Regions from separate parts of the Homo sapiens genome. Here regions 1, 2, 3 and 4 are each reported to be linked to region 5. The links are microRNA targets in miRTarBase. Many come from high-throughput screens and were not tested one by one. Region 5 holds a microRNA gene; each other region holds the end of a gene's coding sequence.

Region 1 (4,065 bases), not on the chromosome of region 5:
GCTAATTTTTGTATTGTTAGTAGAGACTGGGTTTCCCCGTGTTTGTCAGGTTGGTCTTGAACTCCTGACCTCAGATGATCCACCTGCTTTGGCCTCCCAAAGTGCTGGGATTACAGGCATGAGCCACTGTGCCTGGCTGCAATCACTTAGTGTTTTTTTTTTTTCCTCTGCAGACAAAAAAATAAAGTTATCCAAAATTCAACATAAGAAAACTGTAATCACCAAGAGGAGCCAGTTACATTGCAGATAACAGTGCCTATCACCTTCACCTCTGTCAGAGGCCCTCAGAATTTCCAAAGTGTTGGAAGTGGAAGAAGGCAGGTTTGAAGTTTTAGGTTGGGTTATTAGCAAACCAGATCCCCATTTCTTGGCTGGGCATGGTGGTTCACGCCTGTAATCTCAGCACTTTGGGAGGCCGAGGCAGGTGTATCACTTGAGGTCGGGAGTTCGAGACCAGCCTGGCCAACATGGTGAAACCCCATCTCTACTAATAATACAAAAAATTAGCTGAGCGTGGTGGCAGGCACCTGTAATCCCAGCTACTCAGGAGGCTGAGACAGGAGAATCCTTTGAACCTGGGAAGTGGAGGTTGCAGTGAGCCGAGATCGTGCCACTGGACTCCAGCCTGGGCGACAGAGCAAGACTTCGCCTCAAACAAAACAAAACAACCAGATCGCCATTTCTCAATGACTTATGGCCCTTGGAATGCAAGTGGCAGGACCTTTTGGGCCTCCAGTGAGGGACAGCAAACCACACTTATCCTCAAACTTCACAGTAAGCCCACAGCAGCCCTGCCCAGGGAGAGGGCCTGTCAGCCGGGTACCCTGTGTCCAGGGTTTCATTGAAGAACTGTCTACAATCACCATAGCACCTGGCCTTAAATAATGGATTTGGAGACGGCTTCTGGGTGGGATGCATATTACAGGGGTACCCCTTTTAAAAATTAGGAATTACTCCTATGAAGTGAGGTATGTTAGAAACTGTTAAGAAAAAGTTACCTCAAACATTCACAGCACTAAACGAATAGAACAAGGTCAGAAAGCGAGGTTTTCTTATTTTTACTGGTTTATAATAATCTTAAAAACCCCATCACACCCATAAACCACCACAGGTGAGGTGAGAGAGATGGAGAATGAATGCTACAGTATGTGGATAGAATGGGGAATCCAGGTATTCCCTAGGGTAGTGTAGGATGGAGACAGGGAGTGTGGAGAGGAGGCCCTGGCTTGGACCCTTATTGCTGGCTGGGGGTTGGCTGGCAGAGGGGAGAGGGACTCAGGCTGAACTCCGAAAGAAGGAACATCTCACACCAAAGGCGAGGGCAGTTGGGGGCAGGGGGATCACAGTACATTTTCCATGCAGACTAAGGGTGGGAGTGAGAGCTTCAGAGGCTTGCACCCCTACACAGGAAGAGATGGGTTTGAGGTTGTTTGACTTAAAGCCCCCAAGTTGGTGTCTGGTCCAGTTTCCTAAAATAGCAGCTCACCTTTCAGGGAGAGGTATTGGGGAGGAAAAAAAAATACAGCAAGAATATCTGCTTTGGAGATCAAGCAAGGGGTAGGGGGAAGACAGTGGTGCTCTTTAAATCTGACTCAGAAAAGCAGGAACTGGAAGAGGGCCCTGGGTGAGATGGCGGCCAACACCTTCGGAGAAGGCATTGAGTCAGAAGCTACAGGTGCTCCTGGGGGATCAGGACAGGGAGGTACCAGTGTTCACAGACGGCAGGAAAACAATTGGGAACAATAAATTAGGACTTCATGTTGCTATCATTTGGCATAACACAATCAGGCTTTTTTTTTTTTCTTTTTCCTTTTAAATATAAGGCAACTTGCCAACACATAACTTAAAACTGGTCTTCAGTCACATTGCTTCAGATCACTAGAGAATTTCTGGCTAACGAACAGTAGTGGATAGTGAACAAAATGCAAAACCTTAAATAAGAACCATCAGCTGACATTCCCCAGAGACAAGAGGAAAGGTAAGGGCTTATTTCATCTGTAAAAAATAAAAAAGCCCAATTCTGCATCTTTAACAGAATGGTGCAAAAATTTGTAACAAAACAGTCTAAGTTTAAAATTACAGAAAAGTGTTTCTAGCCAACTAATTGTCGCTTGGGATGAGACGTGCTGAGCATGGAGTGGATGAAGGTATGCTCTAAGAATGGACAGAGGGCAGGAGGGGCTTGTTTCCAATGTAGGCCCAGCTCCAGGTGTTAGAACCATGCTCATTTGGTAAAGGAAGTACTCAAAGAGCTTAAGGCTTTGTGTTTGTTTTTTTTTCCTTCATTAAACTGAGGGGCTGCACTAGAGGGTGAATGTACCTGTGGGGCCACTCACACACAATGCTACTCAAACCCACACTACATTCATACAGAAACGTAACGTTTAAAACTTACAGTGTAGAGCAATATTCTTAGCCAGTGTAGAGAGAACCAAATGCATTTTTTTTTTTTTGGTGTTTTTAATCCCAAACTCCAATGTGATCATTCCTTACCTACCTAATTCCTCAAGTAAGGTAGATTTTGTTTTTGTTGAGGGGGAAAGGATAGGGGCTGTGGGGAGGTGAGTTAGGGGACAGGCAACAGTGAGAAAGGGATCTTGGGTATGCTCAAAGGTCACTGTATTTTTCTAGGTTTGGAAAGGGGAGTCTGGAACCAAGATGCCAATACAAAGACTTTTTCCCCCCATATCTCAAGAAATGGTCAAATACTTCCAAGATGCCCTTGAGATCAAGTGTGGCAAGGGCAAGTGCAGTGGCTGTGGGATCAATATAGACACAAAACAAAGCCTTGAGGAATGGAAAGGAACTTGAAGGATATGAAGACTGGGTCAGCTTTGATTTGAGATCCTTCGATGAGTAAGTAATTAGCTTTCAGAGCACCTGGGAAATCTTGCTTCTTAGTCCTGGAGGGAGGGGAAGGGGGGTAGCAACAGGTAGAGGTCTGGATTAGGGGCCTGAGCACCTATACTACCTCAACTAGGGCATTCCGTCAGCCCACACCTCAGTCGTCCTAAGGGAAACAGGAAGAGATTCAAGAAAAGATGGGTGGGAGCTGGCTGGAAATGGCCAAGGTGGAGAGACTAGCTGACAGGCAGTCAGTGGAGAGAAAAGCCTGGGCTTAGGGTTAGGTTCTAACATAAAACCAAAAGTTGCTGGAGGGGAGGACGAGAGGACCCCTTCTGTCCCCACTTAGATCCCACCAAATTCCCTTTCTTAGACATCTAAGAATGATCACACTGGAGCAGTGAAACTTTGAAACTATCCAGTTACTTAAAAGACTAAACCTAGGAGGGTGATGTATGATGTGTTGCACGTGGAGGGCAGCAGGGCTACCTATCTATACCCTGGGTGCTGAATATGAAGACTTCGACTCTCTGTGGGATCGGGGGCTCGGTTGCCAGGGGCTCGGTGGGCCTTGCTCAGCATGGCCAGGCTCTGTTCTCGGAAGCAGGCCTGTTGGAAATCCCCACTTAGGTAATCCACTGTTTGCATCAAGCTGTTCTGGCTTGCCACTGGACCGCCCCCGGTCCCTGCTCGGTAGTGGGCCCCGGGAGCTGCCGCACAGTCGAGGGGTGCACCTGTGGGCTGCCCACCGTGGAACGGCATGGCAAGGTCCTGAGACCCCGAGCTGTCGCTATTGGGAGTGGGCAGAATGTTGTTCCACAGGGGTTGGAAGTAGTGACCATTGGGGTAGGCCAATGGGGCTGCCATGCCGTTGACTGGTGGGGATGGGGTCGGCTTTTCCAGGGGTGGCTTCAGATGGAAGGACTGCGCCAGGCAGAGTTCCTGCGGGTAGGCAGGGGCCTTGCCCACAAAGCCAGGCCCTGCCAACTCGCGTCCTGCCGCATGCTTGCCTGTCAGGCCAGGGGCTGGCGTCCCACTAGCCTCGCTGCACATCTGCTGTAGGTGGGCCAGCTGGTGCTGGTTCCAGGTGACTGGCTTGAGGTCGCTAGGGTAGCCAGTGGGGACGCGAGAGATGCCTGTGGGCAGGTTGACAGGACCTGCAGCAGGCAACGCGGCGGTGGCCGCGTGGGTGTGCTCCATGGGATTGACCACACATGAAGG
Region 2 (4,065 bases), not on the chromosome of region 5:
TTTTTCTATCTTTGGGGATGCTGTTGATGTTGATTTCTGAATTATTTACCAGATCTGGCTGTTCATTAGAAAAAACTATGGAGCTTGAATACTAGAAGTGCCCCTGAATGCGAATCAACTAAATGAGACTCTCCAGAGATTAGGAATCTCTTAATATTCACTAATTCTAAGCCAGGTGTAGTGGTGTGCACCTGTAATCTAGTTACTTGGGAGGCTGAGGTGGGAGACTGGCTTGATCCCAGGAGTTCGAGGCCAGCCTGGACAACCTGGTAAGGCCCCATCTCTAAATTTAGTATTAAAATTTGTTTTAAATTCACTATAATTCTAATGCACAGCCAAATATGGGGCAGATCTGGATCACTGCCTTACATCTGGCCTTCTACCTCAAAGAGAAAATAAGAATTGAACTCAAACCCAACTGTAAATACTAGTGGCCATCTTGGAGAACACTGGCCCACCTCCATTCCAAAGCTAAATCCTTCCTGTGCTTTTATTTTTTTTGGCAGACAGTGTCCCTCTGGTTTTTCATATATTTGGTAGCGACGGAGTTTCACCATGTTGCCCAGGCTGGTCTTGAACTCCTACACTCAAGCAATCTACCCACTTCATCCTCCCAAAGTGCTGGAATTACAGGCATGAGCCACTGTGCCCCGCCCCTCCTGTGCTATTGTTGATACTATCTTGTTACAACCTTGAGACTGGTATACCGGTCATCTCCATCTTCAACCCATTTCTCCACTGAGCTCCTCTTAACATGCTAATGCCTCTCCTATTTGTCTAACTACAATTCAATCTCTGGAGTTAAACTTCATTTAAAAAAATAGCTTTTAATATTTTGTTACCTCTCATCCACACTACCCATTGCACCAGGTGTTGGCACCCATACTCAGCTGTTCTTAGGTCAACAGTTAGAGTATTTCTGAGTCTTACATATTTTCTTGACTTCATTTTGTTGACTACCTCGTCCATTGAAATTTTCTTCCTGCGCACACCTGTAATCCCAGCACTCTGGGAGGCCAAGACGGGCAGATCACTTAAGGTCAGGAGTTCGAGACCAGCCTGGCCAACGTGGTGAAACCCCGCCTCTACTCAAAATATAAAAATTAGCCAGGCGTGGTGGCGGGCACCTGTAATCCCAGCTACTTGGGAGGCTGAGACAGGAGAATCACTTGAACCCAGGAGGCAGAGGTTGCAGTGAGCCGAGATTGTGCCACTGCACTGAGCCGAGATTGTGCTACTGCACTGATCCAGCCTGAGCAACATAGCAAGACTGTCTCAAAAAAAGAAAAAAAAAAATTTTCCCATTGCTGGTTTTCCCATTTTCTTTTTGACCTTCCCACCTACCAGTCTTTGTTCCCCCATCCTTGACCCTCTTCTCCATGTGGATACCGTTGATACACTTTTAGGTTTGAATATCACCTTCCTTTTAGAATGTTCCATACCTTTAAGCATTTGATAAAAGCTATGGTGGTTTCCCCAGAAAAATGTTCAACAGGAAGTTTTGCCTACATTTTTGGATTCACAGACCTCAGTTCCTATGGCAGTGTTCATATACGTAAGTTCAGCTGTTACGTGTTTACAACTCAAATCCAATGGCTACCAGTTTTCCCACTGGACCTCTCTGGATTTAGCAATCTCTAAAATTGTATTCACTTGATTCTTAAAAAAATAAAAAAGCTTAAATGCAGATAGGATGTCACCCTGTTTAAAATTTCTAGTGGCTGCTCTGGTCATCAGTTTAATAAAAATTCCTTAGCATGACCAAGAAGGCTCTTCACTACTTAAAAATAAAGGCTGGGCACGTGGCTCATGCCTGTAATCCCAGCACTCTGGGAGGCCAAGGCAGTAGGATCACTTGAGCCCAGGAATTCGAAACCAGCCTGGACTACGTAGTGAGACTCCATTTCTACTAAAAAAATTAATGGCTCATCATAATCTATTCAAAACTACTGAGTTTTAACCATAAGAAGTCAATTTTTGAAAACACAAAAGTATTTTAAGCCTTTACATTTGCTGTTCATTTTCCAAAGATACCCTTCCCATCAGTATGGACTCCACTCCTGGTTATCCTCCAAGACTCAAATGTCACCACTTTTGTAGAATCTTCCTTAGCCACCTTCCAGTAGTTTGGTGTGCTTATTTCTATCCTAACAATCAATTTGGGGGTATCTTTTAAAATTGCAGAAATTGTATGGAATTAGAGGAAACAAAGCCACGTTCAAATTCTTATAAAAATTTTAAAGTGAGTGGCTTAATTTCATCTGTAAAGTGGGGACACCATCTACCATGTAGTTATTAGATGTGAATACCAGAGAAAATACATGTAGAAAGTGCTAGTGCCTGCCACATACTATGTGCTCAATAAAACTCAGTGTTTTATATGCCTATCTCCAATAAATGGCAGAAAAGACTAACCTGTCTCAGAGTGCCTGGCTCATAGCAAGTACCATGTTCATGTTTCAAAAAACAGATGAAAGACAACAAGAAAGTCACATTCTAAAGCTTTTCAAGAAATAAAGAAGTACAAACAAAGTTTCTTCATCATTCTATTTATTACATGTATGAATATTAACATCTCATGGTGTCCATCTAAGTCAAAACCAACAAAAGAAAAAAGTTAACCATATCTCAAGCAAACATTCTTACAGATTCCCGTTACTTAAAATAGAAATATGTTCATCTGCATTAAATCATTTGACAATTTGAAAAAGTCTTTAAAAAAAAAATCACCTTTAGTACTTAAATATATTTGTTAATTGTTTGATGGCATCAGTGTCCAAGTTCAAGAATAAAACTTTGCATCATTAGATATTTTCAAAAGTGAACATCTGGATGGTTCTCTATACCTGGAGATGTGTTTGTGTATATATATATATATATCTGCAAAATATGTCCTATTTTATCTTTAAAATTTTTTCAAAATCTGGCTTTTCTATTTGAGAAAAGCCCTACGGTGCTCTCTCGGAACCCCCTTTTGAAGGATGAAACCTCAAACTTGCTTCTTTAATCAGTGGGAGGCTACTAGAAAAAAAATCTTATGTTGAGGTTGCTGTTCAATTCCATTTTTACCCAATAAAAAGTACAGAAACTATTTGATGGTGTGCATAAATATTACACTCCATGAATAGCAAAAATATTTTTTATTTATAATTTACAGTTGCACAGTGAAAAATCGTACATTTTTACACATACAATTTCATTTCGTTAAATTTGCACACATCTACAGAACTTTCACACAACAAGCACCTGAAACTCTGCAGGCAGTAGGAAATGCAAATACTAAAATGTATTTATTAACCAAATGATAGCTGAAGGCCCTGCCTCAGCCAGACAATTTATATAGATATGTCTATATATACATAAAAAAATTCTTCACCTTCTAGATCCAACAGCAGCTTTTTTAAAAAAGAAAAACATACCTTTCTCATTTTATTTAAACTGACTCGACTGTGTCATTTTCTGTTTTAATTTCAGAGGGTGTTGCTATGCTTTCCTCTGTACAAGCTGGTGGTGTATCAATTCGTTCTTCCTTAACTTTGGGACTGTCACAGGGTTCCTGCAATTCGTTTTTGACAATGTTCAACATAATATTCAAGGGGTTTTCAACTGGTGTCTTGCTGGGAGATGGTGTACAATCAAATGAAGATGTCTACAAAATGAAAGGCCCTATGAGTACTGATGAAAGTTCAAAATTCTCACATTAAATAACATTTAGTCTTGTAAGACCCTTGTATGAACAAGAGAACACACATACAACCAAATGCAAATGAAACACCTGCCTCCCAACAAAATGTGCCATAAAGACAACCAGAAATAAAATATATATTGCACGTTCAATATGTACTCAGCAGTGAGTTAAGCAGTTAACAGCTAAGTTATAGGACATTATACAGCCAAAAAAAGTTGATTAGACATGCTTCTACATTTTAATCTCTACATAGATGTTAAACTCATACATATATCCTGGGACTTGTTACTACCCTAATTTCAAATAGTCTGAGGATTTTTTAAATCCCCACAAACCATCACCCTCAACACTAGTCTTCTGACAACCTAAATAAACCT
Region 3 (4,065 bases), not on the chromosome of region 5:
TTTCCTTAGCCCTGTCTTTTCAATTCTTGTCATCTCGTGGTCCTATTTGCAGTGACAGCCAAGTGGCTTCTGTTTCTGTGCACAATTACCCAGACTCTATCCATCCATTTCTTTAAAAGTGGGGGACCAGGAGAGAATTTATTCTGTGGGGAAGTAAAGTTGTCAGGGACTTTGAAAAGAGAGAAGAGTATTTTGAAAGGCTGCTTGGTTTGTAAATAATTTTTCCTTTTCTGAATGTCATTTAGCTTGAACTTGAGAAGCAGAAATTGCAAGAAGAGCAAGAAAATGCCCCCGAGTTTGTGAAGGTGAAAGGCAATCTCAGGAGAACAGGCCAAGAAGTCGCCCAAGCCCAGGAGTCCTAGGCTGAGGCTGCACCAAGACCTCGTGTGTCACCCCACAGAGCTGTCTGTGGGTGCCTTCTCAATCTCAGGGCAAAAGCCCCTGGAGAATATTTCAGCCAGCAGAGAATTTTGACTTGCAGTAGGATTTGGTTTGATTTTCCTACGATCTGGGTGGATGCCTTGCCTGTGACAGTTGCAGTTCCTATTCGCCAAATGAAGGGCAGTGCCCCGCACGTAAGTTGGAATGATGGACCTGTGTTCAGAGACTTAACAGAACCAACAAGCAAAACAAGTGAGAACAGGAAAAAGGAAGAGGACACTGGAATCAATTCTTGAGAGTTGCACTACTTGGTTTTTCTTCCATTCCAAGTTTCGTGGGACCCAGAGCCTTTTTTCTTTTAAAAGCTAAAAAACAAGTGTTTAATTCCTCTTTTTGTTATCTGTTAGATAATTGAGATCACCTAGAAATGCGTTTAATCTGTTCACTCACTGTAAATTTTGAGGACCCAGAATTGTCTTGTTTAATTTATACTTTCACCCCTGTTGCAGTTAACACCAGAGAAGGAACGTGAATGTCGAGCACAGCCACTACCCTTGTTGGCACTTAATTTAGAAATAGGGTGAGAAGTTTAAAAGCCCATCTTGATTTTATTTTCATTCCTTTTGGTTCTCTGTGTAATAATAGCAGGCTACATAGTGACATTCCAGTTCCAAGAAGGTACATCCTGTCCATTCATTAATTGCTTTGATTACTAGGAGGGTTTCTGTTCAGTTTTGTTTTTAAATGTCTTGCTGATCTAGTTCTTTCAGATGGAATAACCTTCCAGTCCCTTAGAGAGTGGAACTAGTCCATATAACCCAGCTTCAGTAGCAAAAGTAGAAGCCGCCACATCTTTTCATTTCTCCAAGAGGAGAGTGGGGAAGGTTCCCATGACCAGCTGGGCAGTCAGGATTTCTCTAGGCATTCTAATGTGAAATAAGTGTAGACTGCTGTCAAGGAGGCTTCATCAGAAGATGTATAGCATTTGAATGTCTAATGATAATGCATATCATTAGAATCCAAGCTTTGAAAATTTCTGATTAATGCTCATGTATTTCTTTATCTTTGTTTTTCCTTGTGAAGAAAGACTTTCACCACTGTCTGAGTGATGATGCTGTTGATAAGGATGATGTCGATGACTACTATATTGCATCTCTCAGGAACAGCTGATGGGAAGGGAGGGGCTGCTGAGTTCCCTTGTTCTAGCTAGCAGCACGCTCCTCAGAGAGGGGGCCGAGTTACAGACAGCAGCCGCATTCTCATGCAAAATTAGTTTTAAACTGCTAGTGTGGGCATCGGTACCTTTTGCCTGGGTGATACCGAAGAATTGTTGAGGATTTAGTATGCTCCGTAGAGACAGTTCAGCCAGTCATTTCTGCATTGGAGAGACTTCTCATACTTTCTTTGAAGACTCATAGAAAGCTGGATCTAGAGCTTTTGAATCCTTAATTAGCACAGTAGAAATTAGCTTTCTATGGGAATGCTTTAGTGTTAGCAGTTGACAATTAGGCCCATATTCAATCTGAATGGGAACAAAAGTAAATGCAATGATAATATACTGCTAGTTAGAGAAACATGTTAGTTGATTATACCTGAAATGGATTATTTATCTCATCAGCAAGTATTATTTGAATAAAATGAGAAATGCTTAAGAAAAATTGTTGCTCTACAGTAATTTGGTTTCGAAGAATGGAATGGTAACTATTTTTTCCCATCGTTCTTTTGAGAGAAGGAAGTGTGATGACTGATGATCTTGAAAAGCCCATTTCTGATTGCACGTTGACTGGAATTCTTTCTTTGTGTCTGTGGACTAGCGATGCTGTTTGTAAAATGAAGATTCGGGACTGGCTCATATCTTTTTATCTAACTAGATGTCAGATCTTGAAATCTGTATTCTCGAAGCAATTCTGCCACTTGATCGTATTCACAGGGGCCCTGGTAGGCTCCTTTAGAAGGACCATTTCTGTTCCTAGAGCTTAACTAGAATTCATTCTTCACTGAAAAAAAAAAAAGTTACTTAAGAAAGCATTTCTTTCCTAATCTCACTCAAATCTGCAGAATTATTTGTAATTAGTAATACAAAATCTGGCCAAAAGGAGACTTGTAAATAGCGTAAAGTGGTGTCTTATGCTAAACGGTGGAATGTATAGGCAGAGAAGCTCTTTGAAGTTGTCAGATGAGCTGGGCTCACAAGCCTGATTCAAACAGGCTGTCGGTCTCCTCTCACCCCTTAATACTGTGCAGCCCAAACTCCTAGGACTCTTGAACATCTGAGCAGTTTTGTGCTTTGAGCCACTTTTTGACAAAAATGGCTCCATTTTTCCACAGCGTGGTTTTCTTAAAATAGTTTAATGTTTTATAGTCTCATAGTAGTAGTGTTGCTTTCTAAGCTATAACAGTCGACTTTATTCTTCTACTCTGAAAAATCTTGACTTGTTTGAGTGTATATAATATATATAAAGGGAGCCTTAATGGATTGGTTTTCATAATTTAATATTTTTTGTATTTGCTCTTGTATAATTGTTTTTAACGGAAAGTATTAAAGAATTGAGGGTGGAATTCTTAGAACCAAAGTTATTCTTAATAAAAATCACCACATGCTTGGACCATGCAACCATGTTTGTCTGATCTGTTGAAGGTGTGCATCTGGAACAGAACGGGGCTGGGTTCATTTCAAAGGTGAGAGTTGGTTCCAGGGTCTCCCTTTTGATGACTGGTCCTCATTGACAACCTTGCCCCCAAATCACTTATGTCCTATTGCCTTGTGGCAGTCAAGCTGACAGTTTGTCATATCAAACAGAGTCATCTCAGGTATTTATGGCACTGTAAATTACACATTGCAGTAGGCCATATGGCCCTTCAGCAGCAGCCATCAGTCAGTCCTCAGCTCAAAGTATTCTGCATTTTAGATAGCTTGGTAGGACAGTGGGAGACATGTTTTGGGAAGGGCCATTGTTCAGTGCGTTTGACCCCAGTACATACGGCATGTCTGAAGTGTGATTATGAGGTTTTTTTTGCTTATTCAAGTAAATTAATGTTATTCCTCAAAGAAGTTACTTTGGAAAGGTATACGCCTGATTGCATTATACTACTGGTATACTTTGGAGGTTCAAGTCTCTTTATAATTATGCCTTTATTTTTCAACTACAAATTATTACTCAGTTTGATCACCCAACTTCTAGTGTCTTTGGACTTTTTTAAAATATTATATCTACTCAGGAGAGTAAAAATTTACTATCTCTAAGGTTATACCATGAACTCTAAAGCCAGTGCAGAAGATAGATTCCAAAAATCATTTGAGGAGTAGCTGCATCCTTGGAATAACTAGGCAGTTTGTCCCGGTGACTGTGTTGAGGCTGTCAATCCATTTAATTCGACCACTTCCCCAATCTCTCTCTCTTTCTCTCTCTCTCTCTCTCTGTGTGTGTGTGTGTGTGTGTGTGTGTGTGTGTGTGTGTGTGTTTTACAGTAGTGGTAATAGATTTGAAAGAAGACAGGGCAATTAAAGTGTTTAGTAAGATTTAAAATACTGTAGGACAGCTAAAAGAAGTTTTAAAATAATACTACCCGGCATACATTTCCTAGTATAATAAGAGATGAAGTATTTTACTTCCAGGGTCTTCGGATAAATAAAATCTTTATGAGCTAGCCTAACAATCACAGTTTCTACTTCGTTTTGTCTCA
Region 4 (4,065 bases), not on the chromosome of region 5:
AAGTATCACCTACAGCGCCACCACCGGGAGCAGAGGAGCGGGGCCGGCCCCGGGCCACCCCCGGAGCCACCGCCTCCTTCCCAGCGGGGTTCGGCCCCGCAATCTGGAGCCAAGCCGTCTCCGCAGCCTGCGACCTGGGTGGAGGGCGCCTCAAGTCCCCGGCCTCCTTCTAGCGGTGCTGGGCCGGGGTCCCGTCGGAAGCCCGCCAGCCCTGGGAGGACCCTGCGCAACGGGCGAGGCGGTGAGGCCGAACCCCTGGACCTGTCCTTGCGGGCAGGGCCGGGAGGCGAGGCCGGGCCTGGGGGTGCCCTCCACCGCTGCCTCTTCTGCCCGTTCGCCACTGGAGCCCCAGAGCTCATGGCCTTGCACCTTCAAGTGCACCACAGCCGCCGGGCTAGGGGCCGCCGGCCACCCCAGGCTGACGCGTCCCCGCCCTATGCCCGAGTACCATCAGGAGAGACCCCTCCCAGTCCTTCGCAGGAAGGGGAGGAGGGCTCCGGGCTGTCCAGACCCGGAGAGGCAGGGCTGGGGGGGCAAGAACGGTAGTGGGCCCTCAGGGGCGATTAGCTTAGTGAGCTTACCCCGCCGGAGCGGGGGAGCGCTAGAGGTAGTTGGGTAGAGAAGCCAGCAGGGGGCAGCGTGGGACCCATATCCCAGCCCCAGGCGGACCAGAGGTGGAAGGCGCGGCGGGCGTAGGAGGGTGGGCTGGCGGTACCCACCCAGCCCAAGGGAGTCACAGTGCCTTAGAAGTGGCAGAGGTGAGGGTCAAAGAACGGGGTCCCTGGGCTGGCAGAGAAGGTTTGTGTCCCTGTTGAGGAGCCACTCTGCCAGTCTTTGCTGGTCCATAGGCGTGAGAGTTTATTTTTGTACAAGGGGTGAGGGTGGGGGGCACTGTACCCTTCTAGCCCCATCAGGGGCCCTGTAGACGTCGCTATTTTTGGTACGATTCCTGTCATCCCTATTGCAGAGTCGTGTCCCCAATAAACAGGTGTCTTGAGGCACAGGGCCCTGTGTCTGTCTGCCTACCTATGTCCTGCTTCCCTCTTTGGGTCCTTCTGTCAGGAAATAGTCACCTCTTCAGACACTTAGTTATCACCCAAAGAGTTTGATAAGAAATGCAGAATATTGGGTTTTACCCCCAGGTTTCGATGCAGTAGCTCTGATGGGGCCCAAGAATTAGCATTTAACAAACAGCCAAGCAAGTTCTCACGCACTGTGGCCTGAGGACCTCATTTTGAGAACTGCTGGACTGTGCTGGATCCCAGTTTGTCTGTGACCAGTTCAGCCTCAAGGAGTAGGTGCAGTGTGGGAGAAGGAGCTTCAGAGAGTGTGTGGAACCTCTGGGAGCCACTGTGGAGGAGACACATTCTCCCAGGCTCATACACAGTCAGCTAGCTCTGGGCCTGGGAGGGGTAGAGGGGACCTTCCAGTCTTGGTTTTATTTTCTGTGTTCTAGTTAAGGGCTGGTTGAGGGAAAGTGCTCAAGTTATTTATCACCTTAATCCAGAGGACTACTCTAGCTCCTTAGAGGCAAAGTGTGAGTAAATACATTTAATATAACAATAGTATTATAATAACAGTAATTACATATATAAAGTCTACGGTTCCCCTGTCACACCCTCCTATTGTTTGCATAGCTTCATTGCTTGTGACACCTCAGAATGGAGTCACCAGGGACTCCAGTTGACCTGGCAGAGATGATTCTTCTCAGGGAAAGTCAGGGGGTGAGAAAAGAGGAGAACATGGGCTGCCAGGGAGGGCTGGCATGGGAGTGATGTCCTGGATACAGTGGCCCAGGATGGGAAAGCACCGGAAGAGGGATAACTTCCCCACCTCCAGGGTATGAAGGCAAGCAATGTGGCTGCTCTGACTCCTGCAGGAGAAGGCACCAAGCTAGGGAGACTAGAGATAGTGGTGGCAGGGCAATACTCTGGTCGTTAGACCTCCTCTGTGTCCAGGAAGCAGAGGGAAGAAATTCAGCGATCGCCCAGGGCTCCATTATGCCCCACTGCCATCCCAGCCCAAAGTGTGCTGAGAGGAGAAGCTGCACGCAAGTTCTGGATCTTCTCTAGAAGCCAGGAGAGAAGAGGGAGATGAGTTGGGAGAGGGAAGAAGCTGACTCCCAAGTAGCCGGGGACAGGAAGGAAGGTACATGCAAGATGGTAGGAGTGCTGGATGTGGTAGAAATTGGGGATGCTGACTCACCCAGGTCACAGAGGCGTGGTGGGGTCACTCAGGGCTCGAGCATGACTCTGGGGGGAGAGAAGCTACAGTGAATTTAGGGACATATTTCTTGTCTTTCTCTCTCTTTTCCTCCATTCCTCCCCACAAGCCTGTCAATTCACCTCTCTTTCCTACCCAAAATCCTTGAATTTTGCTATTTACTTTTATTTTTTTAGAGACAGGTGCTCACTGTTGCCCAGGTTGGAGTGCAGTGGCACAAACATGGCTCACTGAAGTCTCAACCTCCTGGGCTCAAGAGATCCTCCTGCTTCAGCCTCTCGAGTAGCTGGGACTATAGGTGCGCACCCCTCAAAAGTCCGGCTAATTTAATTTTTTTTTTTTTGTAGAGATGGAGTCTCACTATGTTGCCCAGGCTGGTCTTGAATTCCTGGGCTCAAGTGATCCTCCCACCTCAGCCTCTGAAAGTCTGGGATTACAGGTATGAGCCACCTTACCTGGCCTGAGTTTTGCCATTTTAACCCAAGTCCAAGCCAGGCCATTGGCATTCTCCCCTTTCCATCCACCCCAGCACTATACTCCTTATTTAAGATTCCTTTTAACCTATGACCTTGATGCCTCTTAGCCAGGTCCCGGGGAGAGGAGAAAGGTAGACAAGATAATAAATCCAGACTGTAGCCTCAGCTGGGAGCACAAGTTCACAGTTTTCCCCCAACCCCCCTGGGGTTGAATGATCAGAAAAGCCCATCCAGAAAGCAGCCAAAGAGATCACATTGTTCCCAGCCTCGTTGTAGGAACTTACCTGTCGGGATAGCCCTAAGATCCCTCGACTGGCCAGGGTGGGAGTGCTGCTCCCAGGGTGGGGGGGTTGCAGGCTGGGGCTGTTTCTTGGTCCTGGGGACACATCTCCAGAAGAGTCAAGTGTTTCTGGGGCTGAAGGGGAAGCTAGGGTGAGAGCAGAGTACAGAATCCCTCCAGATTACCTTAAGCAACCAAGCTGCTCCATCAGGGAAGAAAAAGCTCCATAGCAACAGGAAGCTGTGAGTCACCATAGCGATCCAGTTGCAAGGGAACCCCCTACCAAGAGGCAGGAAATTGTCAGCAGCATCATTAGAGCAACCAGGGAAGAAGCGACAGGAAACTATAAGGATTGCCGTGGTGAACCAGGAGGGTACAACAGGAAGCTGAGGCAGTTTCCATAGAAACCCAAGAAGAGCTAGAGAGAGAGGTACAGAGGAAGTGCTTCTTAGCAACAGGCTGTTGTAAGCATCACCCTAGCAACCAGATGGAAGGCTCTTTTAGCGGTGGGGAAGCTGTACATAGTTGTCATGGCAACTGGGCTTCTTGGCTAGAAAAAGGAATTGCTCAGCAGCAAGCAGCCTGAACATCACCACCATGACCGAGCTGTTGGGAGCCACCCCTTGAGAGGTGCCTCACCCAGGGAAATTTGCTTGACGTCCAGATCCCAGGCCTCCTCCTCGACGCGGGCAGGCAGGGAGCAGGCTCCCGGCGAAAGGCCGGGAAGGGAGGGGCCGGCATGCTCAAAGGATGACACGGCCACGGAGGCCCGGGTGCGGGCGGCTGCAGAGAGTGGGGAGTGGGGGGTGGGGTGCTGGTGTGGGAAAGCCCTCTTGGCTCCCTGGAATGACCCTCAGTCTCACAGAGGGCCTCCCAGCCAGTCCCACTGATTTGGGGACGAGATGCCTTTCCTGACTTTCCACCATACCTCCCCTTTGTATCCTCATTGTCAAGGTCTTCACTCCTGGGGGCCACCCCCCAGCACCCTGGCCCTCACCTCTTCCAGTGAGCAGGGCACTCAGCGTCCGCTCCCCAAGGGCTTTGATGTCCAGGAAGGGTTTATTCCCAATGCCCATGGACACCATC
Region 5 (4,065 bases):
AGCGACCCTGGTACTCTTTCCACTATAAGGAGTTGGGGATTTCCTCTGCAAATTTTTGATGAGTTGGTCTCATTTTAGAAATATTAAAATACTTATAAATGTGTAATACTGACACAGGTGCCAGTAAAAAAGAGGAATCAGCCGGGCGTGGTGGCTCATGCCTGTAATCCCAGCACTTTGGGAGGCTGACGCGGGTGGATCACCTGGGTTCAGGAGTTTGAGACCAGCCTGACCAATATGGCGAAATCCCATCTCTACTAAAAATACAAAAATTAGCTGGGCGTGGTGGTGGGCGCCTGTAATCCCAACTACTCGGGAGGCTGAGGCAGGAGAATCGCTTGAATCCGGGAGGTGGAGGTTGCAGTGAGCTGAGATTGCCCCATTGCACTCCAGCCTGGGCAACAGAGCAAGACTCCATCTCAAAAAAACAAAATAAAACAAAAAAAACATCCTCGGGGATTATGAAGACATGAAAAACGGAATTGGGGCTGGATAAACTTCCTTCAAGAGCTGGGTCCTTTGTGGCCAGGCGTGGTGGCTCATGCCTGTAATCCCAGCACTTTGGGAAGCCAAGGCGGGTGGATCACGAGGTCAGGAGATCGAGACCATCCTGGCTTACACGATGAAACCCTGTCTCTACTAAAAATCCAAAAAAAAAAAAAAAAAAAAAAAAAAAAAAATTAGCCAGGCATGGTGGCGGGCACCTATAGTCCCAGCTACTCAGGAGGCTGAGGCAGGAGAATGGCGTGAACCTGGGAGGTGGAGCTTTCAGTGAGCCGAGATCCTGCCACCACACTCCAGCCTGGGCGACAGAGCGAAACTCTGTCTGAAAAAAAAAAAAAGAGAGAGCTGGGACTTTGCAATCAGGCATGCATACCTGGTTTTCAGCCGTGTGAACCTGGATAGGTGACCTCATCTCCTGAAACCTCAGTTTCTGCATCTATAAAATTGGGGAAGTATCAGTTCCTTCTTTATAGGGTTGGAATAAGAATTGATGAGGTAATACATATAATGTGCTTAACACATTGTCTGGAACATAGTATTTAATTAATGCTAATTATGATTAACTTTTTAAAAAGTGGTTTAGAAAAGCTAATTAATGCCTCACTTAATTACAACCCTTAGACATTAAAAACATTTAAAAATGCCTCAGCATAGATATTCAGTGGGAAGACTTTTGTCTGTTACTTCTCAGTTAACCCTCCTGGCATTTAAATAGTGAGCGTGTGTTGAGGTGCAGGCATCCATTCTCATTTAACAAAGCCCTTTTGAATGGGTAGTTCCTTGAGGTGGCTCTAGGAGAAAGCCCTATCGTGTGTCTAAATGACCTACATTATTTGGAAAAACAAACAAAGCTGGATTGATCTGAGTTGATTGCTTTCAGAAACAACAAATTGGCTAGATTCAACGATTTCCTCCTTTCCTTCACCAGCCAATTTTTGGGTAGATATAGCTTCATTATAAAATCTGACCAAGCTTGACTCTATATAATTCAATCTCAAAGTATAAACAATCTGGAATGTTTTGTGGAAGACCTTGAATGATTTCTGAGCAGGAGATGGAAGCCTGAAGAATCAGAGAGTGAATGCATTCAGGTTTTCAGTGGCACGTGACCTTGATTAGCACACAGTAACAAACCAATTGGTGTCTCCTGAAACTGACCCCTCTCCCTTGGTTGATGAGTTTGATCCATGCTATTGTCTCTGGAAGGGTACTGGAAGAAACCTCAGGGATGAGAGGAACCTAACCTCTCATTCTGTAGATGAGGAAGCTGAGATCTAATGAGTTTGCATGACCAGCATCTATTACTCTACAATATTTTCCTCTTGGTTCCAACGCCATGCTCCATTTTCTTCAAGCAAGGGCTATTGGGGGAAATTTTCAATCATTTTCCAGTTTCCATGTTATTCACAATAAAACACAAGTTATCTTTATTAAAAATGTAAAAGTGTCAGCTTTTTAGATCTGGGTGTATCCATTTGTTTCCCTGGGAGACAGTGGGGAAGAGGCACAGTGCCTGGGGGTCGGGGCCTGGGAGGGTGGTGCCAATGGGGAGGGTGAAGAAGACCTTCACTGCCACCTTGTGGTCACCTGGGGCCAAACAGGGTCATTCCTTGGGAACCTCTCTCTGTCTAGCTTCTTTGGCTGCTTGCCTGAGATCTTTATCAGTGCAGTCAGCATTGCGTCAATGAAGCTTTTGTTATAATTTCTCTTCCATTGCATTTTCAGTTTCTTTAGCCCAGGGAAGGGGAAGTTGTTGAAAGCTAGCAAAATTCTGTATGTTGAAAAAACATCTGCAGGGAGGAAGAGGTCAGAATCCAGGAAAGGCTCTTAAGAAGAAATGTTTACGAGCTTTGCAAGATCCTTGTCTCATCTTATAGCATCTCTCCACAAGAGCAGAGATTATGGGACAAAAGTCAGGCCTGAGTTGGCACCTGTCATTATTATTACTTGGTCAATTGAGGAAGTTAGGATAGATGAGGATTCATTTATTATCTCATTTATTGGCCTTATTTGCAGTCCAATTTAGTTCTCACGTCACATTCTGATAGTCTCAGATTCAATAGCATCAGTTGAAATACTAACAATATTTTTCAGTGCAAAAGAATGACTTTCAAAGTATATATTATGGAAAGGATTATAATAAATTAAATGCCTAAACTGGCAGAGTGCAAACAATTTTGACTCAGATCTAAATGTTTGCACTGGCTGTTTAAACATTTAATTTGTTAGAATGGAAGTAGCGGCACAGAATAAGCATGTTAATTAAACTTGGGCTTTAGCAATGTGAGTCATCCCACGGACACAGAGCGTGACAAACCCGGATGGCAAAAGTCAATGTGCGTTGATTTCTCATTCTCCAAATGAACACTTAACATCTTTAAACCCTGCAGACATTAGTGGTTTTTAATGAATTGTTCTGTCTCTTTGAGGTGACTTTTAGATGATGCCATAGTACTTTTAGTCTGGGAAACAACTTTGCCAATTAAGTTGCAGGGAAGTTATCACCGCAGAAAATTGATTAAAATGATTATATGGCGAATCTGTTCCATGCTTTTACATTAAAAAATAGAAAAATGTAAAGAAGAGGTATAAAAACAAAACCTTGAAACACCAGTTTATCGAAAACAAAAAATCTCCATCATCACCATCATATTACCATCACCACTGCCACCACCGCCACCATCATCACATCTTTTGGGGCTATGGAATATCTAGGCCCAGATTTCCTGTCTGGCCCTGGTTCTACGTGGTAGAGTTATGGTAACATGATGCTGGTTAAGTCACTTGTCTCCTCTAAGCTTCAGGTTCCTCATTTGTAAAATGAGGGCCTTTTTATTGGTTAGGGTAAGGCTAAGCTGATGCAGCAAAGAGGCCCCCAAATAGCATGATTTACATCAGCTAATAGTTCATTGCTTCTTAGAAGTAACCCAGTTGTTTCAGGCTGGCAGGGGAGCACTTGGCTCCCTTACTCAAAAATCTTTGGTGACTCCTTACTGCCTGCAGAACTCAATTCAAGGTCCTTCACAACCTGACCTCAACCTACACTTCCAACTTAGTCACTCATAGCCTTTCTACTTCCATCTGTGTCTTTTCTGTCCTGTTCCCTCTGCCTAGAATTCTCTTTTCTCCTTCACCTATTGACATTGTATGCATTCTACATGGCCTAGCTCAGAGGCTGCCTCCTTCATGAAGCCTTGTAATTCCCTGCCTCTTGCCCCTTTTGATTACCTTTTATAACACTCATTATTTCTTCCTCTGCCTTCGCATATCTTTGCCTCCTTTATAGTATCAAATTCCATTTGCCTTATAATTAAATCAGTTATTTATGCAAATAGGCTTTATGTTTCTGGAGGCAACAGACTGCATATTATTTATCTTTGTTCCCCAACTTCTCTATCCTTCCTTGCCTTGCCCAATATCCAGCATTGTTGCTTGCCCAATAAATGTATGTTGAACTGAACGGAGTAAAAAAAGTTGTTACAGATAAAAAAAACTCAGTCATCAAAATAGCAACCATTTGTTAACTCAAGGGGCCAATTAGTCAATGAGCTATTCTTTGGA

The links. The annotated mature microRNA hsa-miR-759 reads GCAGAGUGCAAACAAUUUUGAC and lies in region 5 at 2,665-2,686, shown strand. An mRNA with a match to its seed (bases 2 to 7 or 8) in the 3' UTR can be bound and repressed. Matches are read on the target gene's strand: a 7mer-m8 pairs with bases 2 to 8, a 7mer-A1 pairs with bases 2 to 7 and ends in A, and an 8mer does both.
Region 1: miRTarBase lists FAM222B as a target of hsa-miR-759. The part of its 3' UTR that is shown has no 7-base or 8-base seed match.
Region 2: miRTarBase lists PCF11 as a target of hsa-miR-759. The part of its 3' UTR that is shown has no 7-base or 8-base seed match.
Region 3: the mRNA of FAM107B is a reported target of hsa-miR-759. Seed matches in the 3' UTR shown: 7mer-A1 at 2,797-2,803.
Region 4: the mRNA of ZNF219 is a reported target of hsa-miR-759. Seed matches in the 3' UTR shown: 7mer-m8 at 821-827.

Annotation. Positions count from the first base shown.
Region 1 is chr17:28,754,937-28,759,001 of GRCh38, forward strand. It overlaps FAM222B (family with sequence similarity 222 member B), which reads right to left. Exons shown (of 3, transcript NM_001077498.3): 3 at 1,044-4,065. The coding sequence ends at 3,334. Among named protein-coding and RNA genes, the nearest start is that of TRAF4, 13 kb to the left of the region's middle.
Region 2 is chr11:83,184,263-83,188,327 of GRCh38, reverse strand. It overlaps PCF11 (PCF11 cleavage and polyadenylation factor subunit), which reads right to left. Exons shown (of 16, transcript NM_001346413.3): 16 at 2,534-3,649. The coding sequence ends at 3,434. ANKRD42-DT (ANKRD42 divergent transcript) reads left to right here. Exons shown (of 3, transcript NR_149009.1): 3 at 3,475-3,837. It overlaps PCF11-AS1 (PCF11 antisense RNA 1), which reads left to right and starts at 844. Exons shown (of 1, transcript NR_133914.1): 1 at 844-2,807.
Region 3 is chr10:14,517,487-14,521,551 of GRCh38, reverse strand. FAM107B (family with sequence similarity 107 member B) reads left to right here. Exons shown (of 5, transcript NM_031453.4): 5 at 246-2,995. The coding sequence ends at 362. Among named protein-coding and RNA genes, the nearest start is that of MIR1265, 83 kb to the right of the region's middle. RefSeq lists an enhancer at 1,399-1,914.
Region 4 is chr14:21,087,017-21,091,081 of GRCh38, reverse strand. ZNF219 (zinc finger protein 219) reads left to right here. Exons shown (of 5, transcript NM_016423.3): 5 at 1-1,005. The coding sequence ends at 546. ARHGEF40 (Rho guanine nucleotide exchange factor 40) reads right to left here. Exons shown (of 24, transcript NM_018071.5): 20 at 3,977-4,065; 21 at 3,619-3,762; 22 at 2,984-3,114; 23 at 2,206-2,252; 24 at 834-2,068. The coding sequence ends at 2,211. Among named protein-coding and RNA genes, the nearest start is that of ZNF219, 9.6 kb to the left of the region's middle. RefSeq lists enhancers at 1-803, 3,308-3,457, 3,210-3,752, 3,753-4,065.
Region 5 is chr13:52,807,409-52,811,473 of GRCh38, forward strand. It overlaps MIR759 (microRNA 759), which reads left to right and starts at 2,642; the gene lies at 2,642-2,732.